7 linked regions of the Homo sapiens genome follow. The protein of the gene in region 6 interacts with the protein of the main gene of each other region in a biochemical or structural test. Each region holds a gene or a part of one and is shown on either strand. Other genes may lie near its edges. The genes, in order: PRKD2, KIT, RSBN1, ADGRA2, ADRA1D, SYNJ2BP and ABCC4.

Region 1 (2,649 bases), on a different chromosome or scaffold from region 6:
TTCCTTGGCCTCCCAAAGTGCTGAGATTGCAGGCATGAGCCACCACGCCCCAATCATGTATATTTTGAGGCTATTAAAAAAAATCTGCATTATTCAAAAGAGGAAACAGCGACCCATTGGAGGTGGCAGAGGTATAGCAGCAGCTAGCATTTATTGTGCACCAACTGAATGCCAAATATTGTCCTGTGGGCTTTGGATGGTTTAATTCACTAACCATCATGGCAGTCCTCTGAGATAGGTGCTCTTCTGCTCTTCTTCCTATAGATGGGGAAACTGAGGCACAGAGGGGGGAAGTCACCTGCCCAGGGTTGCTCAGCTAGTGAGCCAAGGAGCCTGGATTCAAACCAGCATCCAGCTTTCTCTGGAATACCATGGAGGGTGGTGTGGTGGGGATGCTGGGGTGGGTGCGGCTCCATCACCTGGTGGAGCCTCCATCCCTTGCCCTCTGCAGGTGAAGCTGTGTGACTTTGGCTTTGCTCGCATCATCGGCGAGAAGTCGTTCCGCCGCTCAGTGGTGGGCACGCCGGCCTACCTGGCACCCGAGGTGCTGCTCAACCAGGGCTACAACCGCTCGCTGGACATGTGGTCAGTGGGCGTGATCATGTACGTCAGCCTCAGCGGCACCTTCCCTTTCAACGAGGATGAGGACATCAATGACCAGATCCAGAACGCCGCCTTCATGTACCCGGCCAGCCCCTGGAGCCACATCTCAGCTGGAGGTGCCTGGGGCCCGCCTACCCCATGGGCGGGTGGGTTGTGGGGTGGGGCTGGAGAAGTGGGCGGAGCCATGAGAGGGGGGTGGACCCGGAAACAGCCTGGCACCTTGGGGGTGGAGCCCAGTGCTGGGGCGGGCCTACTGGAGGGATGTGGCTACAGGAGGAGCCGTCCTGTAAAAGATGGGCTGGGACTCAGGCCTAGACTAGGTTACTTGGGCTGGAAACCAAGTGCCCCAGAAGCGCTGAGGACACTTGGAACCTTAGGGGGGCTGAGTGAGACTTGGCTTGTCTAGGGTGGGACCAGGAAAGGGACTGGACTTGAGGGTACCAAAGGGCTGCGGTGACCAGGAGAAGGGGCTGAGCCTCCCAAGGCATTGGCTGGGACCTGGAGCCTTTGGGTTTACGACCCCAAAAGGGTCAGCCTTGCAAAAAGGAGGCACCGGTGGGTAGGGTTGAGAAACAAGGGCATGGCTACTTTGCTGTGTACTGGGGCCGTGACTTGGGTGAAGATGGGCCTGAAGCCTGGGGTCGGTTCAGTGACCAAGGGAGCCAGTCTAGGGACGTGGCCGTGGAGGGTTTCCGAAGAGGTCCAGGAACAGGGCTGACCCTGAGTCCTGGAAGCTGGGAGTGGATGGGAGTGGGGAGGAGAAGGGAGCCAGGACTGAGGCAGACATTGCACTCTGCATTCTGGGGCTTTGGTGTTGTGGCTGGGCCTGATGAAGTGGCACCGGGCCTGGTGACTTGAACCTACTTGGGAATGGGTCTGTAACTTTCCCTGCTTGGAAAAGTTAAGTCCTAAGGCCTGGAGCTTTGAGGCTGGGTGTGGGATGGCATGTTTAGAGGGCCAGAGGCAGGGCTAAGATACTGGGGTGTGTCAGAAGCCAGGAGAACAAGGGACCTGTGTTGGAGCCAGGGAGCTCAGGAAGACAGATGGAGTATGGGAAGGGGGGGGATCATTCATTCATTTATTTATAACCATTTATTCAACAAGTACATTCATGTATTTGTAACCATTGATTCAACATGTTGAGTGCCCACGATGTGCCAGGCATTGACTGTTCCAGCTCTGGGAATACTGTGATGACTTGGACAGAAGGGGTCAGGTGCAGGGTAGCTCATTGAGTGGTCCGCGAAGGGTGGAAAGGGGAAGGGTCCTCTCTGGAGGGTGCGGCTTCATGGAGCAGGTGGAGCAGGGTGACACGGAGGTTGCTCGGTGCAGGACAAGACAAGGTCTTGGTGGTGGTCTAAGAGCATGGGCCCTAAGCAGTGAGAATGTGGATTGACTTGAGTCCTGGAGTAATATTGGGGGTGCTCAACACTGGCTTTTTTTTTTTTTTTGAGGTGGGGTCTCGCTCTTTCACCCACGCTGGAGTGCAGTGGCGTGATCTCGGCTCACTGCAACCTCCACCTCTTGGGTTCAAGGGATTCTCCTGCCTCAGCCTCCCGAGTAACTGGGATTACAGGCACACAGCACCATGCCTGGCTCATGTTTTATATTTTTAGTAGAGACAGGGTTTCGCCATGTTAGCCAGGCTGGTCTTGAACTCCTGACCTCAAGTTATTTGCCCGCTTCAGCCTCCCAAAGTGCTGGGATTGCAGGCATAAGCCATCACACCCCGCCAGCATTGTCTTTTGAGACCCACTCAGAAGTCCCTCAGTAAAAGTGCATCGAGTGTGCACAAGTGAATTTAAGTGTGGTTGCACCTGTGTGAGGATCACAGAATCCTGTGGGTGTTGACGGGAGCAGGGTGCCTGTGTGCACCAGGCCTCTCCTCGGATGGGTTCATACAGTGAAGCCTTGTCCTTCATGGCTTCCCATCAAGGAGAGAGCCTCGGATGAGTGCTGGCTTGTCTTGAAGCTTGACATTCGCTAGTCCTCTTTTTCACAATGAACAGGCCTATCTCTGAGCCTTCTGCAGGCAATGGTGACTAA
Region 2 (3,500 bases), on a different chromosome or scaffold from region 6:
TTGTCTTTCTTTCATCTTGTCTCCTGGGGCTCATTTAGAGAGTTTGAGGTAATACGGGATACCATATTTGGCTCTCTGTCTCCCATTAAATTCATTGTGTCAAGAGACGGGAAATTTCTAACCTGAGTCCTCTATATGATTATACACAAAAAGGACACCTAGTTTCTGGGCATGGACCCCAATATCGATTATTAAAAACTCATTTCTTACAGAACAGGATTTTCAAACTCTTTATTCAAACTTTACATGACTTTCCTCAAATTGGTCCAGTCTATTATGTAGCAAAGGGGATGAGGAGGTAGAGCATGACCCATGAGTGCCCTTCTACATGTCCCACTTGATTCAGTCATGACTTGTTTCATCTCTCCCAGCAGCGATAGTACTAATGAGTACATGGACATGAAACCTGGAGTTTCTTATGTTGTCCCAACCAAGGCCGACAAAAGGAGATCTGTGAGAATAGGTGAGTACCTACCTATCAAGCAACCAAGAGTAACTTTACAGAGAGTATGTATATCATGCTAATGTGGAATATAACATCATTCCCAGTAGCAATGATGCAGACCAGTTCTGCTTTATGGTAGCAGTGCCAATGGTCAATGGCAGTTAGGGTTGCAAGTGGGTGTTTGGGGTCAGAGCATATGTTTTTGTGCCTGAGTATCTTTCTATAGATATGGGATCTTTGCTTTAATTCGCCATCCCTCTCCTCTATGGATTTTGTAACCCAGCCTAGGATTGTTAAATATTAACTTTGTGATTCAGCATCTACCTTTCCTGGACACCAGGGAAGTGATCTGCCTGCAAGTTCACATTAGTTCATTCATTACCAGCCTTTGGTATGTCATTGCCACTGTCTTTTCCTTTCCTGACCTTTATGGTTGTAATTGCTAAGAAAAATCCTCTCTTCCTCACAGGCTCATACATAGAAAGAGATGTGACTCCCGCCATCATGGAGGATGACGAGTTGGCCCTAGACTTAGAAGACTTGCTGAGCTTTTCTTACCAGGTGGCAAAGGGCATGGCTTTCCTCGCCTCCAAGAATGTAAGTGGGAGTGATTCTCTAAAGAGTTTTGTGTTTTGTTTTTTTGATTTTTTTTTTTTTTTTTTTTTTTTTGAGAACAGAGCATTTTAGAGCCATAGTTAAAATGCAGAATGTCATTTTGAAGTGTGGTAACCAAAAGCAGAGGAAATTTAGTTTCTTCATGTTCCAACTGCTGTCTCTTTGGAATTCCTGTTCTAATTTATAAGCTGTAAAGTACAAGCCTGTCTAAATGAGTTTTTCTATGAATATTCTTTTATATGCAGTGAAATTCTTTTAAAACTTTTGGCTTTTAGGATATAGGATATGTTCCTAGAGAACAGAATCATTTTATCAGTAAAAGCAGAGGGCACCTCATAGTTACAAGGCTTGGGGTGAAGCATAGACTTGAGTTTTATTGAAGTTAGATCCAAATATTATATGTGTGGCTTATGAAGTGTCAGGAAATAAGGGGTCAGAGGGAGTAATAAACACTTGGGAGAAGGTTAGGAATGGAAAGAATGATGGAACCAAAACAAGGAGCATGGTCTGTGGAAGGGTGAAAGGAGTTCCTTAGGAAGTAAGATTAACCGAACAGAATGAGTTACCAGTCCTACCCTTAAATGTCATGGGTGACATTTCCCAACAATTACCAAACTAAGAAAGGATATAAGATGGCTGAAATAAAGACCTTCTTCCGTGTGTCCTTGGGAGATGTCAGATTGAATTTGCAAAGGCATATTAGGAACTCTGTGAAAGGACATTCAAAGAGATGCATGCAAAATGAATTTTCAGTTTAAACAATATGATATGACTATTTCTTATGTATTTCCCTATGAATGAAAGCAGTCCTGAGAAGAAAACAGCATTTATTAGAATTGCTTTTAAAAGAGATTATAATAATTAGACTCTTGATTATGTGAACATCATTCAAGGCGTACTTTTGATTTTTATTTTTGGTGTACTGAATACTTTAAAACAAAAGTATTGGATTTTTTATAATATAAGCAACACTATAGTATTAAAAAGTTAGTTTTCACTCTTTACAAGTTAAAATGAATTTAAATGGTTTTCTTTTCTCCTCCAACCTAATAGTGTATTCACAGAGACTTGGCAGCCAGAAATATCCTCCTTACTCATGGTCGGATCACAAAGATTTGTGATTTTGGTCTAGCCAGAGACATCAAGAATGATTCTAATTATGTGGTTAAAGGAAACGTGAGTACCCATTCTCTGCTTGACAGTCCTGCAAAGGATTTTTAGTTTCAACTTTCGATAAAAATTGTTTCCTGTGATTTTCATAATGTAAATCCTGTCTAGGGATATCACACATTTTAGCAGTCAAATTAAGTATACTTCAGCAAAATTTGCATGGTATGCTGAACATTACTACAACTAACATTCAATAATAGAAGTCCTAATTCTAATTGTGTAATTTTGGGGCATGTGAAGGAAACAGAAATAGCCTTAATTTTCATTATAGCCTGAGAATAGCAATGAACTTGATTTTGCTCAAGTGTAACAAATGTAGGTCATTGAAGGTCACAGCAGGAGAAATTTTGGGGGGATTGGCATGCCGTGTGAAAAATATTAAAATCTAAGATCATATTCAGAGTTAGCCATATAGAATGTTGGATCCTAGAATACACGGAGAGCTATTAAATAGGTTCATAAGTAATAATGGGTTTGTAGAACATAGCAAATGTTTTTCAAAGTGCTGTATTTCCTTGCCAATTTTTATTGAATCCTCAGAACAAACCCTTGTCCTATAATTGCAGCACCTTCCTATTTTAAAAGTTGGAGAAACTAAGGCATGGCATATTTTAGTGCTTTTTATCTGAGGTGACACAGGACAATAGAGGCTGAAACTAGAGCCTGTGATTTCCAGAGTGGCATCCCATCGCCATGGAAAACCATATTGCCCTTTATAATATTCTCTGCCTGTCTTCCTGGGCCCATTTCTGCAGTCCAGATTTATTCCTGGAGGTGGATTTTTGTGCCCCTTATGATAATGTAATGTTTTCCCCCCATCACTGTGGCGTCTCTATTGGTAGCCTGTACTCGATTTGGTTTTGTAAGAGTGTTTCTGTGTTTATCTCCTGGCCAAAGCATGAATTTCTGAAAAGGCTGCCCTGAAGCTAGATATTATCATCAGGAGTGATAATAAAAACAACTTCTCTTCATCCTGGTGCAATTTTGGAAGGAAGAATGATAAGTCGTTAATTATCCAGTCCTCTGAATATTGACCAAAGGGAGGAGGAAGAAGGTGGCCGCCTCCAGGCCCAGTCTTGATGAATTCTGCAATCTGTCTCCATTATTTCATGCCTGTGTAATTTTGTCAAGAGTTGTCCAATACCTCTGAATCTTTGTTTTTCTCCCCTTGGGAATAATAGTGATTCCTGACTCAGAAAGTTATGAGTTAATATATGTAAAGTGCTTATGACAGTGCCAGACATATTGTTACTATTCTTTATAGATGTCT
Region 3 (3,500 bases), on a different chromosome or scaffold from region 6:
ACATAGTTTGACTGATATCTTTTTTGTCCTCTGAACATCTTTATTGTTACAGTGGTATGCAGGAGGCATGCCTCTGGTATTAATCTGAGTTTAAATCATGGCTCTAACACTTACTGTGTGAGCCTGAACAAATTGCTTTACCCTCTCTCAACTGCACTTTTCCTGTCTATAAAATGGGGTTGTGGTATTTCATTTATAAGGAACTTGTGTGGATTAAATAGGGCATTGTGTGAAAGTACTTACAGCAGTGCCTGGCTCATTGTAGGCACTTACTTAAAACCGGCCTTTATTATTTTATTATGCATGGTCCCTAAAACAACTCTAAGATTAATAAGGAGAGTGGGCAGATTCTTGTTACTTACAAAGCTATGTCCTTCCTTCGCTTATCCTCAGATTTTTGGAAACTATTTTAACTGTTTTTTTTTTTTAGATAATTAATGATTCACAGGAAATTGCAAACATAGTCAAGTCCTTACCTTTTACCAGTTTCCCTCAGTGGCTACATCTTACATAACTATTGTATAATATCAACACCAGGAAATTGACATTGGTACAATGTATATGTAGTTATATGCTATTTTATCATATGTAGATTAGTGTAACCACCACTACAATCAAGATACAGAACTGTTCCACCACCACAAACCCTTTACAGCCTTAGGCACTCCCTCTGTCTCTCTACTGTCCCTGTCCTCTGGCAGCCACTAACCTGTTTTGTCATTTTGAGACTATTATATAAGTTGAATCATACAGTATGTGATCTTTGGAGATTGCCCTTTTTCACTCAGTGTGATGTCCCTGAGATCCATCCCTCTTTTTCATTGCCGAATAGTGTTCCATGGTATGGATGTACCATGGTTCACCTATTGAATCATTCCCGTATAAGAAAGGACATTTTGATTATTTCTAGTTTTTGGCTATTATAGATAGAGCTTCTATGAAAATTGGTGTTCAGGTTTTTGTGTGCATGTAACTTTTCATTTCTTTGGTCGTATGGTAAATACAATTAGCCCTCTGTATCCATGGGTTCCACATCAATGGATTCAGCCAACCTGGGATTGAAAATATTTTCAAAAAAACATTGTCTGTACTGGACTTGTGCAGACTTTTTTTTTCTTGTCACTGTTCCCTAAACAATACAGTATAACAATTATTTATATAGCATGTACATTGTATTAGGTATAAATAATCTGGAGATGATTTAAAATATAGGGGAGGATGTGCATAGGTTATAAGCAATTATTATGCCATTTTATATGAAGGACTTGATCATCTTGGATTTTGTTGCCCTGGGAGGCTCTGGAACCAATCCTCCATGGATACCAAGGATGACTATATATATTTATTTTGTTTGTTTGTTTTTTAAGATACTGCCAAAGTATTTTCTGGAGTGTCGGTACCATTTTACATTCCTGTCAGCGGTGTAAGAGAAATCCATTTTCTCCACATTCTTGCCAGTATCTGGTATTGTCACTATTTTTATTTTAGCAATTTTAATAGACGTGTGGTGATACATCATCATGATCTTAATTTGCATTTCCCAAATGGCTAGTGATAATACACATCTTTTCATATCATCATTTGCTGTCTATATATCCTGGTCAGTAAAATGTCTCTTTATACCTTTTGCCTATTTTCTAATTGAATTTTGTGTGTGTGTGTGTGTGTGTGTGTGTATACATATACATATATATATATATATAATTTTTTTTTTTGAGACAGAATTTCACTCTTGTTGCCCAGGCTGGAGAGCAATGGTGCAATCTCGGCTCACTGCAACCTCTGCCTCCCGGGTTCAAGCGATTCTCCTGCCTCAGCCTCCCGAATCGCTGGGATTACAGGTGCCTGCCACCACACCCAGCTACTTTTTTATATTTTTAGTAGAGACGGGGTTTCACTGTGTTGGCCAGGCTGTTCTCGAACTCCTGACCTCAGGTGATCCACCCGCCTCAGCCTCCCAAAGTGCTGGGATTTCAGGCGTGAGCCACTGCGCCCGGCCCTTGAATTGTATATTTTTTATTACTGGGTTTTGATAATTTTTTGTAGATCACAGGTGCAGCTTCTTTGTATGGTTTGCACATATTTTCTCCCAATCTGTTGCTTGTCTTTCCATCCTTTTTGTTTGTTTGCTTGTTTTTATTTTGGTTGTTTTTTTTTTTTTTTGAGATGGATTCTCACTTTGTCACCCAGGCTGGAGTGTAGTAGCACGATCCTGGCTCACTGCAACCTCCACCTCTTGGGTTCAGGCGATTCTCCTATGTCAGCCTCCCGAGTAGCTGTGATTACAGGCATCTGCCACCATGCCCGGCTAATTTTTGTGTTTTTCAGTAGAGACGGGGTTTCGCCATATTGGTCAGGCTGGTCTTGAACTCCTGACCTCAGGTGATCCGCCCGCCTTGGTCTCCCAAAGTGCTGGGATTACAGGCATGAGCCACCACGCCCAGCCTGTTTGTTTTTGTTTTTTTGGGGAGGGTCTCACTCAGTTACCCAGGCTGCAGCACAGTGATGTGATCATGGCTCACTCTAGCCTCAACCTCTGGGGCTCAAGTGATCCTCCCACCTCAACCTCCTGAGTAGCTGAGACCACACGTGTGCACCACCACACCTGGCTAATGTTTTTTTTTTTTTTTTTTTTTTTGATAGAGGCAGGGTCTCTCTGTGTTGTCCAGGCTGGTCTCAAACTCCTGGGCTTAAGTGATCCTCCCGCCTTGGCCTACCAAAGTGTTGGGATTACAGACAGGAGCCACTGTGCCTGGTCCTTTCTACCTTCTCAGTGGGATACTTCACAGAGCAAAAATTTTAAATTTTGTTGATATCCAATTTACTAAGTTTTTTTTTTTCTTTAATGGATCATGTTTTTGGCATCATATCTAACATACCAAGTCCTAGATCCCAAAGATTTTCTCCTTTGTTTTCTTCTAAAAGTTTTATAATTTTAACTTTTGTATTTTAATCTGTCATCCATTTGAGTTAATTTTGTACAGGTGTGAGGTTTAGGTCGCCATTTTTTTTCTTCTTGCCTAAGGATATCCAGTTGCTCTAGCACCTTTTGTTGAAAAGATTAATCTTCCATTGAATTGCTTTTGCACTTTTTTCAAAAATCAGTACAACCTGTAATGTAACAATGATTTTTTTTTTTTTTTTGAGACAGAGTCTCGCTCTGTGCCAGGCTGGAGTGCAGTGGTGTGATCTCAGCTCAGTGCAACCTCCACCTCCTGGGTTCATGGGAATCTTATGCCTCAGCCTCCTGAGTAGCTGGGATTACAGGCGCCCACCACCACACCCAGCTAATTTTGTATTTTTAGTAGAGATGGGGTTTCACCATGTTGGCCAGACTGGTCTCAAACTCCTGACCTCAGGTGATGTGCCTCCCACAAGTGCTGGGATTACAGGCATGAGCCACTGTGCCTGGCCTAACAATGGTTTTTACAATTTAAAATAGTTGGAACGACCTTGTAGCGCATGGAAATCATACGAAATTTAAACTGTGTCCAGAAATA
Region 4 (3,500 bases), on a different chromosome or scaffold from region 6:
CAAGGGTGACTCACGAGCCAGCTCCACCTGCCACCCGCAGTGAGCTGACGCTGTCTCACATCGGCGTGTGGGCCTCAGGCGAGTGGGAGTGCACCGTGTCCATGGCCCAAGGCAACGCCAGCAAGAAGGTGGAGATCGTGGTGCTGGAGACCTCTGCCTCCTACTGCCCCGCCGAGCGTGTTGCCAACAACCGCGGGGACTTCAGGTTTGGCCCACTCCACCCTGTAGAGGGCTGCCCAGCCCCCAACCCCACCCTTGCACCTGACATCACAGGTGGCCAGAGTTTCCCCATCCGCTGTCTCTGTTGGGTCCTAAAGATGGAGAAGACACTTCCTTTTGTCATTCAGCCTGAAGCCTTGCTATCGAATAGATAGACTTTATGTATAAACTTACCATCTGAGGCCGGGTGCAGTGGCTCACGCCTACAATCCCAGCACTTTGGAAGGCCAAGGCAGGCTGATCATCTGAGGTCAGGAGATCAGCCTGGCCAACATGGCAAAACCCCATCTCTACCAAAAAGCACAAAAATCAGCCAGGCATGGTGGTGCGTGCCTGTAATCCCAACTACTCAGGAGGCTGAGGCAGGAGAATCGCTTGAACCCAGGAGGCGGAGGTTGCAGTGAGCCAAGATCACACCATTGCACTCCAGCCTCAGCCTAGGAGACAAGAGCAAGACTCCATCTCAAAAACAAACAAACAAACAAAATTACCATCTGAGATGTGCTGCAGAAAAAGACTTTTTTTTTTTTGAGAGAGAGTCTCACTCTGGAGTGCAATGGCATGATCTTGTTGCCTCAGCCTCCCCGGTAGCTGGCCTGTGCCACCATGCCCAGCTAATTTTTGTATTTTCAGTAGAGATAGGGTTTCACCATGTTGGCCAGGCTGGTCTCGAACTCCTGGCCTCAAGTGATCCACCCGCCTTGGCCTCCCGAAGTGCCAGGATTACAGGCTTGAGCCACTGCGACTTTTTTTTAGACAGGGTCTTGCTCTTTCATCCAGGCTCCAGTGCAGTGGCACAATCATACCTCACTGCAGTCTCGAATTCCTGGGCTCAAGCAATCCTCCCACCTCCGCCTCCCAAGGAGCTGGGACTACAGGCGCAGACACTATGCCTAGCTTATTGTGTTATCTTCTGTAGAGACAGGGTCTCACTTTGTTGCCCAGGCTGGTCTCAAACCCCTGGGCTCAAGCACTGTGCCTGGCCACAAAAAGGCTTTTATTTGCTTCCTTATATTCATAGTTTGCAAAAGCTCACCCACAAAGAGTATCACCTTTTAAGATCCCAGTGACCCTCTCTGTTATGCAGGGAAGCTATTATTCTCCCCACTGTACAGCTGAGAATACTGAGGCCGAGAAAGGATAAATACCTTGCCTTAAGCCATAGCAAATAAGTGGCAGAACTTGAATTTAAACTCAGAACTCTGAAGTCCAGCCCCCTATCGCCTGTGATAGCCCGGTCAGAACAAAGAGAGTGGAACTTGGGAACCCCTGGAAGGCTGGTCTGAACCCCGCTCCTGGATCCCTCCCCAAGGCCCCAAGGAGTCCGGCCTCACCGTTCTAAAGTCGGGAGAAGGGCTGTTGTTCTGAGAAGCCCGGTTCATCGGCAACTTCCTGCCTCTCCCCCCAGGTGGCCCCGAACTCTGGCTGGCATCACAGCCTACCAGTCCTGCCTGCAGTATCCCTTCACCTCAGTGCCCCTGGGCGGGGGTGCCCCGGGCACCCGAGCCTCCCGCCGGTGTGACCGTGCCGGCCGCTGGGAGCCAGGGGACTACTCCCACTGTCTCTACACCAACGACATCACCAGGGTGCTGTACACCTTCGTGCTGGTGAGGAGAGGCTAGGGCACCCCACCAGCTCTGCTTCGGGGGCACAGGGAAGGGAGAAGCCAACCTAACGGGCAAGGGGAGCCCTATCTCCGGGCCGCTGGGCTGTGCCTCCTGTTCCTGCCTGTGCAGAGCCAGGAGCCGGCTCCTCTCCTCCAGCCGCCCTCTGCTATTCAGACCCACTGAGGCCACAGTGGGGAAGGGCACCAGTCCTCTGTCCCCATCTGGCCACCTCACGCCCCTTTACTCACCAACGCCAAAAGCAGAGTCCCACTGTCCTTACACCAGGGGTGCTGGCAGTGGTGGCCTTGGGCTGTGATGGTCTCAGCCTCCTCTGCCCTCCTAGCTTGATGAGACCCAGAAGGTAGGCTGGACTCCTGTCCCCAGGCACTGAGCACTGGCACAGAGCAGAGGGTCCCCAGGGGCAGTTCGGGGGCAGAAGGAACAGGCGAGATGATCCTCTCTCTTCCCCCAATCCCCAGATGCCCATCAATGCCTCCAATGCGCTGACCCTGGCTCACCAGCTGCGCGTGTACACAGCCGAGGCCGCTAGCTTTTCAGACATGATGGATGTAGTCTATGTGGCTCAGATGATCCAGAAATTTTTGGGTTATGTCGACCAGATCAAAGAGGTGAGACTCAGCTGGAACTCAGGAGCTCGGAAAACGCCCCCATCCCTCATTTGCTCAAGCCTCTCTCTCACTCCAGCTCCTGGGTCCCAAACCCCGCCCCTGCCCTCAGCAACTTCCCTGTCCCCCCAGCTGGTAGAGGTGATGGTGGACATGGCCAGCAACCTGATGCTGGTGGACGAGCACCTGCTGTGGCTGGCCCAGCGCGAGGACAAGGCCTGCAGCCGCATCGTGGGTGCCCTGGAGCGCATTGGGGGGGCCGCCCTCAGCCCCCATGCCCAGCACATCTCAGTGGTAATGGGGGTCAGCAGAGGGGGTGGCCCTGGCATGCAGAGGAGGGAGGCGCTCCCTCTCAGGCGTGCACCTGCCGTGCCCCAGCTAGCAAGAGCAGCAGACGTGACAAAGTTCTGAGCCATGGGGTTCACTTCCAAGTTGTCAGGGGCAGTGCTAAGGAGAGGTGGCCGGTGACCCTGGAGAAGTGATGCCAGACTCCGTGGTGGGGAACTGAGCCAAAGGGCCAGCCTGATGGGAATAAGCAGGAGGAAGAGTGAAAGGAGTAGAAGGGATGGGAGGAAGGCTTGGTGGCAGGGCAGACAGCACTCGGGATTGAGTGAAGAGTAATGGAAGTTCCCTGAGAGAAGGTGAGTGCTCCAATCTGATAACAACCACAGTACAGCATCGTGTATGTTCAAGATATTGTGCTAGGCCCTTGGGGCGATGCAAAGGGGTGAGACATGGAGCCTGCTCTACAGCTGAGTCGGGCAACAGAACTGGCATACTTAAGAGGTGAGCAAGAAGCCTGTAATCCCAGCACGTTGGGAGGCCGATACAGGAGGATCTCCCAAGGCCAGGAGTTGGAGACCAGCCTGGGCAACAGAGAGACCTGGTCTCCACAAAAAATACAAAAATTACCCAGGAGTGTTGGCATGCGCCTGTGGTCCCAGCTACTCGGGAGGCCAAGGTGGGAGGATCACTTGAGGCCTGGAATTTGAGACTAGCCTGGGCAACATGGTGAAACCCCATCTCTAAAAAAAAGTTTTTAATTAGA
Region 5 (3,500 bases), on a different chromosome or scaffold from region 6:
GGGCAGATCACCGAGCATCACTGACCTCCACCTTCCAAATGCCATCCACTCAAAGCAGCCCGGAGACTCAGAGCCCAGGGCCCCCCTCAAATGCACCTCAAGGCATACAAGCTGGGCAGAGGCTCTGATATCAGAAGTCCCAGGACAGCCCAGCCAATGTCCCACTCCAGCCATCTGTGAGCCACACCTGAGCCTCTCTCCTATCTTGTGAGTCTGTGCTCTGTGATAGTGCCTGTGTCGCTGACCACCCCCAGACTTAGATGTCCCATGTGCTTCTGAAACACTCTGCATGTACTTTTATCACGATGCACTGTAACTGTCAATATTCAGATATGCATCATGAAGTGTGAGGGCAAAGGGAACTACACACACGTAGGCACAGGAGTAGCAGTATTGCTGGGTTGCTCTGTGGTTTGGGAGACGTAAAACGTGTAGCCTATGAGAAGAGGGGTCAAGAGATGAGGCCAGATGCCATCTGCAGGAGAATGGATAAATAAACCATGTATCCATAGACTGGACCACGGTACAAGGAAAAATAGCAAACTACTGATGCACACATGGATGAATTTCATGGATGTTATACTGCGCAAAATAAGCCAGGTCTGAAACTCAAGGTGTACACACCTTTTGATTCTGTGTAGATGAAGTTCAAAAACAGGGGAAACTTATCAATGGTGATAAAATCCAGGATAGCGGTTACCCATCTGTGTGTGTGCAGTGAGTGTACTAACTGGAAGAGAATGCTAGAAAACTTTCTGAAGGGCTGGGACAGTTCCATACCTTGACCTGGGTAGTGATGACATTGGTGCATGCATATGCAGAGCCATCAGGCTGTGCTGTGTGCTTCAGATACACACGCTTTCTAAATTTGACTGTCTACATGTTATGCCTTTGTTACAGTGAGAGAGAAGGCAGGAGGAGGCAGGGGGGAGGCTGTGAGCCCTGCTTAGTAATTGGTGTCCAGGCTGGAAGGCATACTTTGGTGGCCCCGTGCGGAGAGTGGATTATGCATATGTCTGAGAGTCGGCCAGGTGCTAAAGGACTCATCTCCACAGGCTGCCTGAGGTTGTGCAGGGGTCTGTGGATGAAGGGGAGAGGCAAGGGATGCTTTGTGCTAGGTCTTCAGTAATGGCATCATTGTCTCCCGGCCCAAAAGCCTGAAGAAAGGGCTGGCATTACATCTCCTACCTGTGCTTTGTGGCACCTGGAACATAATAGGTGCTCAGTAAATGTGTGCAGAAGAAGGAAACGGTAGAACCCATGTTCTATTCCCATCCTGCCACACCAAGGGTCTGGGTGGCAAAGCACAGCCCTCCATTTATTTATTATTTTAATTTTCTTTTATTGTGGCAAGAGCATATAGCATGAGCTCTACCCTCTTAACACACTTTTAAGTGTAAATATCATATCATTAACTACATATCATTAACTATGGATACATATCATGTGATACTGTTGCACATCAGACCCCTAGAACTCATCTATCTTGCCAAACTGAAACTTTATGCCCATTGATTAGCAATTCCCAATTTCCTAGCGCCCTTTCTCCCTGGAAACCACCATCCCACTCTTTGAGTCTACGCATTTGAGTATTTTAGAGACCCCCATGTAAGTGGAATCATGCAGTATTTCTCCTTCTGTGACTGGCTTATTTCGCTTAGCATAACAGCCCTCTATTTAAAGTCAACTCTCTTTACTTGTTGTGGGTTGGGGGTGAGTCCCCATTTTTGTGGCCTAAAAAAAAAATCTTTAACAGGACAGTTAATATTTATTGAGTAATTACTATGAATAAGCAATGAGCTAGGGTTGGGTTTTTTTCATGTTTTTAACATGGAAAGTTTCAAACACATACATTGATAGAGAGAACCCTGTTAGTATAATGAACCCCTGTGTACCTGTGACCCAGCTTCACCCCAAAGCTAACCTAGATTCTTTCCATCCTCACCCACTGTCCCATCACTGTAGATTCTTTTGGATTTTTGTTTGTTTGTTTTTTGAGATGGAGTCTCTCTGTCTCCCAGTCTGGAGTGCAGTGGCGCAATCTCAGCTTACCGCAACCTCCACCTCCCGGGTTCAAGTGATTCTCGTGCCTCAACCTCCCAAGAAGCTGGGATTATAGGTGTGCACCACCATGCCCAGCTAATTTTTGTATTTTTAGTAGAGACGGGGTTTCACCATGTTGGTCAGGCTGATATCAAACTCCTGACCTCAGGTGATCCACCCACCTCGGCCTCCCAAAGTGCTGGGATTACAGGCATGAACCACTGCACCCGGCCACTGTAGATTATTTTGAAGAACATCCAGATACAGTATCCCTTCATCTGTAAATCCTTCAATATATAGTTCTAGAAGATAATAACTGTAAAAAAAAAAAAAAAAAGCCCACAATCCATTATAACACATAAAATCATTTAATATCATCAAATATCTACTTAGTGTTGAAATGTTGCTGGCTGCCTCGTAAATTTTTGGTTGGTTTGTTTGAAGCAGAATCCACAGAAGGAGCACACGTTGCATATGGTCGATTTGCCTATTAGGTTTCTTTACTCGGTAAGCCTCCACTGCTTTTTTTTCTTTCCATTTATTTAGTGAAGACACCAGATTGTCCCCAGGTGTATCCTGTAGTTTGGAGTTTGCATCTCCACAGTGCCATTTAATGTGTCCCTCTGTTCCCTGTACTTCCTGGGTGCAGATTTGGCCTGGAAAGAATTCTTCTTTTCTGTGGTGTCAAGATTGACCAGAATTCATGTGCTGTCAGCCTGCTCTGTCCATTACAAAGTGACCCATCGGCCTTTCACCTGCTGGTTTTGGCAGCCATTGACCATGGCCTGGACCCATTATATCACTGGGGCTTGAAGTGGGGATATTCTAATCCTATCATACCTCCTTCATTTATTCACTAGCATTCTAAAATGATTTCACCACTAGCTGTTTGGTTAAATAGAATCTGTACAGCAAAGGCAGGGAAGATGTTCAATATTCCTCTTTATTTATCAGAGGAAGAGTCAGTTCTCTAGCATTCTTTCCAGACGTGACCACTGAGGCTGTTTGAGTACCATGGTAATGTCATTATTTTTAGACATCCTTGCTGTTCCAACACATCACAGACATCATTGTTTTGGGCTTGGCCAGTGGGTACTCCTTCCAGTTGGCTTCTGAGATCTTTGGCAGAACCTGGAGCATCTTGAGCTCTTCTTTGCTTTCTGATCTGATAAGATGCTTCAGGCTCAGCTTGCATTTTTTCTGCCCTAGACCTGGAATTAGCCATTTCCCTAAAGAGCCCTAGTCTGTTTCAATGGAAGATGACTGAGCTGTTCATTGATACTGAGTTGGTCACTGATTCAATGGACAGATCTAGGAAGTACATTTTATTTTCAGTAGAAGAAAAACACAACACTGATGGGGACTTCTGTCCTTGGACATATATTCCTCCTTCCCCTCCCCTGAAGATCTTGTCCTCTGCCCAGCTCCTGCTGATATGTTTGTCCCAAACATCTGAG
Region 6 (3,500 bases):
TGTAGATTCTGGATATTAGCCCTTTGTCAGATGGATAGATTGCAAAAATTTTCTCCCATTTTGTAGGTTACCTGTCCACTCTGATGATAGTTTCTTTTGCTGAGCAAAAGCTCTTTAATTGATCCCATTTGTCAATTTTGGCTTTTGTGGCAATTGCTTTTGGGATATGTGGTCACCCTACTTATGCAAGATTTTTCTGGGCCATAGCCAATGATTAGCAAGATACGTATTGAATAGCCTTTCCCTTTCTGGTGGTTTCCAACTGACATCTGTTTCAATTGGTTGGTCCATATGCTGGATGATTGCCGCAGAGTTTAGATATCACACTTGCTAGAAACTACTCTTAAGGGGGATTTCTAGGTCACATGCCATAGACGTACTTAATAAGTTTGAGTTCCTGTTTATAGATGGGTGGAATTTTAAAATCTGTCTTCCCATTTTTTAGGAGATTTTGCATTTCTACTGTATATTTATTCATTCTTTCTCTGTCAAACTATCTAGTTTGGAGCTTTAGCAGCCATTAGTTTATTGACAACTACTCCTAGCGCCTTATCCCAATAGAGCAACTACTATGTAGTTTATGAAGATTTTTTTTCGTATTTTATGTTATTGGCCCCTAACACTTACCCATTGATGTAGACAGGGCAGAATTTATAATTCTTATTTTTGTAGAAAAGGAAGCTGAGGATCAGAGGTAAACTGACTTGCTTCAGTCCACATATCTGGTAAGTTATAAACTTAGAACCAAGTCTTCTGACTTTGATTTGCTTCTACAATATCTAAAAGGGACAGGGAAAAGGATAAATTTGGGTTTGTGGTTAAAATAGGAACTGTCCAGGTTAGCTTTATATCTTCCTCAGAGCATAACGTAATGCCTAACACATAGTAAATGTTGATTTGCTTCTGCAATATCTTAAAGGGACAGGAAAAAGGAAAAACTCCAGTTTGTGATCAAAGCAGGGAGTGTGCAGTTTAACTTTATGTCTTCCTCAGATGATAACACAACATCTTACACATAAGATTCAATCAGTAATTTTTACTGAGCAAGTGAACTGGGGATTATGTAGGTATCCGTACAGCCCAGGTTCAGTTGGTCATGCCACTACTTAATGCTGTGGTGACTCTTTTATTGCAGCAATGCTTTGGCTTATAGATACACCCAGTTCTGTAAATATTCTGGCTGAACAAAGGGCTTCAGGTCAGTCCAGGAGTTCTCATGTTAAATAGTTTGGTTCATTTACAACAGAAGTAGCAACGGGTTATAAATGTACCTATATAATATGACTTCGATGGGGTGTGTAGTAGACGGCTCTTTTTTGTTTATGGTAAATCTCGGTAAAATTTCTTCTACTCTTCCTTTTTTTTCTACAGTTAGCTTTGAATAACCAGTAGCAAAGTCCTTTCTGTTGCTAACTACTACATTGCATTCAGCTGCTTAACATTTGCTTCCTGTTCCCAAGATCACCAGAGGCAACTGTAGCATTTGATGAGGGTGTTGGATTTCATCAAAAGATTTTTCTACATAGTTTGTTCCAGCTTGGGAGAGGTGGGTTGGCCTTGGCCCCCTTGTTCAAAGCTGTCACAGTTTTGAAGTCATTTCAAAACCTTCGATAATCTTGTTCCATCTGCTTTTCCACCTTATCTTACATTTCTGTACCTTCTCCAATACTTCCTACCTTCTATGATACAAATTGAGGGTGCTCTAAGAAAATCATTTAGTAAGTTAAGCTACTATTTTTAATACCCAGCCCTTCAAGGAAGTTAAAATAGCATCTTCCAGAAGTAGCACCTTCTTATTTATTTTTTTAGAGAATAGGGTCTTGCTATGTTGCCCAGCCAGGTCACAAACTCCAGAAGTAGCACTTTCTATTATGTATATTATTTTAGAGAATAAATTCTTTCTATTATCTAGCTGCAGAGATTTTATGCACAAGGTATGCTTTTTATGTATTTTATTTTATTTTTGAGATGGGGGTCTCACTCTGTCACCCTGGCTGGAGTGCAGTGACACAATCTTGGCTCACTGCAACCTCTGCCTCCCAGGGTCAAATGATCCTCCTACCTCAGCCTCCCAATGTTGGTCATGTGCCACCACGCGTGTCTAATTTTTTGTATTTTTGGTAGAGACGGGGTTTCACCACGTTGCCCAGGCTGGTCTCGAACTCCTGAGCTCAAGTGATCCACCCACCTTGGCCTCCCAAAGTGCTGGGATTATAGGCGTGAGCCACCATGCCTGGCTAAGGTATGCTTTTTAACTTAAATGTTTCCTGTTGTGTCTTTGTTTGGTCATGTTTTTCTTTAAATTACAAATTGATTTGCTAGTGCTTATGTTAATACTGTGAGCTTCAGGTGTAAGCTTTTCTCCCACCAATGGGGAGAACTTTCAGAAAGCCCGCATATGTCTCTTTTTTATTTTTTTTTTTGAGATGGAGTCTTGCTCTGTCGCCCAGGCTGGAGTGCAGTGATGCAATCTCAGCTCACTGCAAACTCCACCTCCCGGGTTCACGCCATTCTCCTGCCTCAGCCTCCCGAGTAGCTGGGACTACAGGTGCCTGCCACCATGCCCAGGTGATTTTTTGTATTTTTAGTAGAGACAGGGTTTCACTGTGTTAGCCAAGATGGTCTCGATCTCCTGACCTTGTGATCCACCTGCCTTGGCCTCCCAAAGTGCTGGGATTACAGTCGTGAGCCACCGCGCCCGGCCCCCCGCATATGTCTCTTTAAGTATCTTTTCTATTGAGAACAGTGTAGGCTGGTGATTATGGTTATTCCTTCCAATTGCACCGCTAGATTTTTGGTTTGTTTCCAAACTATCTCCTTTGTCTTACACTGTGCCCCTGAATTCTACCAGTAGCTGACATTAAGAAAGCCCTAGAGAAGTTCCTTTTTCCTTTTTATTTTTTTATGCATAGGTAAAATCCTTTCCTAACAACGGTTTCTGTACAGTAAAATCCTTTCCAGCACTTAGTCATTGGTCCATAGAAATAGCACTTTGGTACTCAGTTTTCTTTCCTTCTCTTTTTTCTTTCTTTTAATATTTTGTTTTACTGTGGTAGGAACACTTAACGTGAGATCTACTCCGAACAGATTTTTCAGTGTATGATATAGTATTATCTGTAGGCACAATGTTGTACAGCAGATCTCTAGAACTTAATTCATCTTGCATAACTAAAATTATATGCATTTAAAATAGTTAAACTCATAAAAACAAATATTAGAATGGTGGTTTCCAAGGACTTAGGGAAGAGGAACTGGGGAGTTGCTAATCAACGAGTAGTCAGTTTTTTCTACAGTGAATAAAAGTTGTCAATTACTATGCCCAAGTATAGATTGAGTAGCCCAAATCCAAAAATCTGAAATTTGAAATGCTTCCAACTCCAAAATTTTTTAAGGGCCAACATGACGTTCAAAGGAAATGCTCATTGAAGCATTGCAGATTTCAGATTTTTGGATTAGGGATATTCAACTGGTAAGTTTAATTCAAATATTCCAAAATCCCC
Region 7 (3,500 bases), on a different chromosome or scaffold from region 6:
ACACTTGTGGCCAAGTTAATCTAGCAACCACAGTGTTGATTAGTGGATCTGCCACAACCTAGAGGACATTCCTAGGACCCATCCTTTCTAGCATTCAGACTACGAAAGTGTTCCAAGAACTTTCAACAGCAACAATGAGCTGCTAAACGTTAGCATCTACAAAATGAATTTGCATAGGGATAGAAGAGCAGTTACATGGGGACAAGCCCTGCGGACTGTGAGGTCAATTGGCCATGTGTCCAATATAGCTCAACTGCATGTATCACTGATGATGCCCAAATTGACATAAACTTCCTGACCACATTGGCCAACATGATGAAACTCCATCTCTACTAAAATACAAGTATTAGCTGGGTGTGGTGGCGCGTGCCTGTAATCCCAGCTACTCGGGAGGCTGAGGCACGAGAATTGCTTGAACCAGAAGGTGGAGGTTGCAGTGAGCCAAGATCATACCACTGCACGCCAGCCTGGGCAACACAGTGAAACTCCATTTAAAGAAATAATAATAATAAGATAAACTTCTCCATGAGCCCCAAACTCATGACCAATTGAATGCCTATTCAACATCTCCACTTGAATGTGTAGCAGGCATCTCAAACTTAACAGGGTCAAAAATAAACTCCTGTCCAGGCACCATGGCGCATGCCTGTAATCCCAGCACTTTTGGAGGCTAGGGCGGGAGGATCACTTGAGCCCAGGAGTTCAATACCAGCCAGGGCAACATGGCAAAACTTCATCTCTACAAAAAATATAAAAAATTAGCTGGGCATGCTGGCACACACCTGTGGTCCCAGCTACTCAGGGGGCTGAGGTGGAAGGATGGCTTGAGCCCAGGAGGTGAAAGTTGCAGTGAACTGAGATCGCACCACTGCAATCCAGCCTGGGTGACAGAGTGACACCCTGTCTCAAACAAAGAAACAAAGATTTAATGTGGCCATGATAGCTGTCTTTGAATACTATGAGGCGAGCATATGAAGGGAGGTAGCCAACTTGCTCTGCGTGTTGACAAAAAAACAAAGGAGAGCGGCTCTGAACCTATTTTGGTTCTAGGAGCTGCTTGATTCACAGATCATTCTTTGCTTCATTAAATTCTGTAATGCTTTTCTTAGAAGTAAGTAAACACAAGTAGAAATTGCATGGAAAGAAAACTGTGGCTCAATACAACATAATTCTGGCATTCGAATCTAAAGTCATGAGAGTCACATAATGCATTTCCCCACTGCCCAGTATCTGGAAGGGATTCCTGTACTGAGTGTGGGCTAGAAGATCTCTTCCTTTCAACCCACTAATTCTATGACACTAAGGAAAAGGGGAAGATAGGAGCTAGCGCAGAGAAAAGAGCAGACAGGGACTAGGCCTGAAACAGACCAGCACGGAAGTGGTCATGGAACCCAGAAATGGAACAAGGAGCTACGTCGCAGGCCACAAAAGGGCTGTAAGTACTCATGAGTAAGGGGCTGGAAGTGGGAGAAGCAAAGTCTGAACATCTGCTGGGATGAAAGAGGGGAGGGCAACCTTGGGTGTAACAAACGCTACCGGCTGGCAGGGACGACATAGCGACTGAGGGGTGGTCATTCGCCACACGTCTCAGGCAACACTTTCTCCAACTGCAGTTCTGTGACCTGGACATCTCATCCCCTGCCAGGAACGATTTCCCACCTTCTCCATCCAAGCTCCAACAGGAAGGTAAACCCCTCCCCAGAGATCTCCATCTTGGCCAACATGGCAAAACCCTGTCTCTAACAACAACAAAAAAATTAGCCAGGCCTGGTGGTGCACATCTGTAATCCCAGCTACTTGGGAGGCTGCGGCAGGAGAATCGCTTGAGCCCGGGAGGCGGAGGTTGTAGTGAGCCGAGATCATGCCACTGCACTCCAGCCTGTGCGACAGAGACTCCATCTCAAAAAACAAAAACAAAAACAAAATCCCCACCCTCACACAGCTTTTCCATACTTCTACTCCAGCACACCCAACACGGGTTCAGGATGAACTCCTGCAGCAGCGACTGCTGGACACACGGACTATGTTTTTTTGAGATGGAGTCTCGCTCTGTTGCCCAGGCTGGAGTGCAGTGGCGTGATCTTGGCTCACTGCAACTTCTGCCTCCCGGGTTCAAGCAATTCTCCTGCCTCAGCCTCTCGAGTAGCTGGGACTACAGGTGCATGCCACCACGCCCAGCTAATTTTTGTATTTTTAGTAGAGACGGGGTTTCATTACGTTGGCCAGGCTGGTCTTGAACTCCTGACCTTGTGATCCACCTGCCTCGGCCTCCCAAAGTGCTGGGATTACAGGCATAAGCCACCGCACCCAGCCTGGACTACGTTTTCTTTTGCTTTTTTTTTTTTTTGAGACAGAGTCTCATTCTGTAGCCCAGGCTGGAGTGCAGTGGTGCAATCTTGGCTCACTGCAGCCTCCACCTCCTGGGTTAAAGCGATTCTCCTGCTCGGTCTCCCAAGTAGCTGGGATTACAGGCATGTGCCACCATGAAAGAAGGCAGGGTGCCTTCTTTCTTGCCAGGTGCAAATCCATTACAATAAAGTACCATTCCTGTTCTCAAAGAGCTCACACAATGAGGGAGGCAGCCACTGTATCGTGCAAATAATGCTAGCTATTAAACAAGCCCTGATTCTCAATGGCTTAATTCAAAATCACCAGCCGAGGCAGTGGATCACATGAAGTCAGGAGTTGGAGACCAGCCTGGCCAACACAGCAAAACCCCTTCTCTACTAAAAATACAAAATAAATAAATAAATAAAAAATTATCCGGGCGTGGTTTTGAGCTCCTGTAATCCCAGATACTTGGGAGGAGGCTAAGGCAAGAGAATCGCTTGAACCCGGGAGGCAGAGGTTGCAGTGAGCCGAGATCACGCCACTGCACTCTAGCCTGCAAGACAGAGATAGACTCCGTCTCAAAAAAGAAAACAAGAAACCAAGACCATGCCTATTGTCATGCTATAGTCCCCTTTTGGGCCATCTAGGGTGGTGAACAACACCATACATTTACTCCTAGCTGGACTTTCACCATCTTGCGGCTCGGCCTCCTCTCAGTCCTCCTCCTCTCCAGGAGGCCTCTTTATTCAGCTGGAGAGGCGTTGCATGGGGCTGGTTTTTGTGTTCCAGTCGTGGAAGCGAGACACCTTTTGCAACCACTTCCTATTGGCCAGGTCTCAGTTTCATGGTCACCTCTGACCACAAGGTTGGGGTAGAAAACATAGTCCAGGCTGGGCATGGCGGCTCACGCCTGTAATCCCAGCACTTTGGGAGGCCCAGGTGGGTGGATCACCCGAGGTCAGGAGTTCAAGACCAGCCTGGACAACATGTTGAAACCCCATCTCTCCTAAAAGTACAAAAAATTAGCTGAGCATGGTGGCGCACATCTGTAGTCCCAGCTATTTGGGAGGCTGAGACAGGAGAATCGCTTGAACTCCGGAGGCAGAGGTTGCAATGAGCCGAGATCACGCCACTGCACTCCAGCTTGGGCAACAAGAGTGAAACTCCAT

Evidence for each region.
Region 1: the proteins of SYNJ2BP (region 6) and PRKD2 interact in a test that uses a peptide from one of them, tested with the Homo sapiens proteins (one large-scale study listed by IntAct).
Region 2: the proteins of SYNJ2BP (region 6) and KIT interact in a test that uses a peptide from one of them, tested with the Homo sapiens proteins (one large-scale study listed by IntAct).
Region 3: the proteins of SYNJ2BP (region 6) and RSBN1 interact in a test that uses a peptide from one of them, tested with the Homo sapiens proteins (one large-scale study listed by IntAct).
Region 4: the proteins of SYNJ2BP (region 6) and ADGRA2 interact in a test that uses a peptide from one of them, tested with the Homo sapiens proteins (one large-scale study listed by IntAct).
Region 5: the proteins of SYNJ2BP (region 6) and ADRA1D interact in a test that uses a peptide from one of them, tested with the Homo sapiens proteins (one large-scale study listed by IntAct).
Region 7: the proteins of SYNJ2BP (region 6) and ABCC4 interact in a test that uses a peptide from one of them, tested with the Homo sapiens proteins (one large-scale study listed by IntAct).

What each region holds. Positions count from the first base shown.
Region 1 is NC_000019.10:46,676,466-46,679,114, reverse strand, and holds part of PRKD2 (serine/threonine-protein kinase D2), read left to right. Parts: intron 1-451; coding exon 452-719; intron 720-1,658; exon of another isoform or gene 1,659-1,975; intron 1,976-2,649.
Region 2 is NC_000004.12:54,730,957-54,734,456, forward strand, and holds part of KIT (mast/stem cell growth factor receptor Kit isoform 1 precursor), read left to right. Parts: intron 1-371; coding exon 372-463; intron 464-914; coding exon 915-1,042; intron 1,043-2,113; coding exon 2,114-2,236; intron 2,237-3,500. UniProt on the Homo sapiens protein: Tyrosine-protein kinase that acts as a cell-surface receptor for the cytokine KITLG/SCF and plays an essential role in the regulation of cell survival and proliferation, hematopoiesis, stem cell maintenance, gametogenesis, mast cell development, migration and function, and in melanogenesis.
Region 3 is NC_000001.11:113,805,977-113,809,476, reverse strand, and holds part of RSBN1 (lysine-specific demethylase 9), read left to right. Parts: intron 1-3,500. UniProt on the Homo sapiens protein: Histone demethylase that specifically demethylates dimethylated 'Lys-20' of histone H4 (H4K20me2), thereby modulating chromosome architecture.
Region 4 is NC_000008.11:37,831,383-37,834,882, forward strand, and holds part of ADGRA2 (adhesion G protein-coupled receptor A2 precursor), read left to right. Parts: intron 1-40; coding exon 41-205; intron 206-1,627; coding exon 1,628-1,826; intron 1,827-2,305; coding exon 2,306-2,455; intron 2,456-2,584; coding exon 2,585-2,746; intron 2,747-3,500.
Region 5 is NC_000020.11:4,239,288-4,242,787, reverse strand, and holds part of ADRA1D (alpha-1D adrenergic receptor), read left to right. Parts: intron 1-3,500. UniProt on the Homo sapiens protein: This alpha-adrenergic receptor mediates its effect through the influx of extracellular calcium.
Region 6 is NC_000014.9:70,389,591-70,393,090, reverse strand, and holds part of SYNJ2BP (synaptojanin-2-binding protein), read left to right. Parts: intron 1-3,500. UniProt on the Homo sapiens protein: Regulates endocytosis of activin type 2 receptor kinases through the Ral/RALBP1-dependent pathway and may be involved in suppression of activin-induced signal transduction.
Region 7 is NC_000013.11:95,291,452-95,294,951, forward strand, and holds part of ABCC4 (ATP-binding cassette sub-family C member 4), read right to left. Parts: intron 1-3,500. UniProt on the Homo sapiens protein: ATP-dependent transporter of the ATP-binding cassette (ABC) family that actively extrudes physiological compounds and xenobiotics from cells.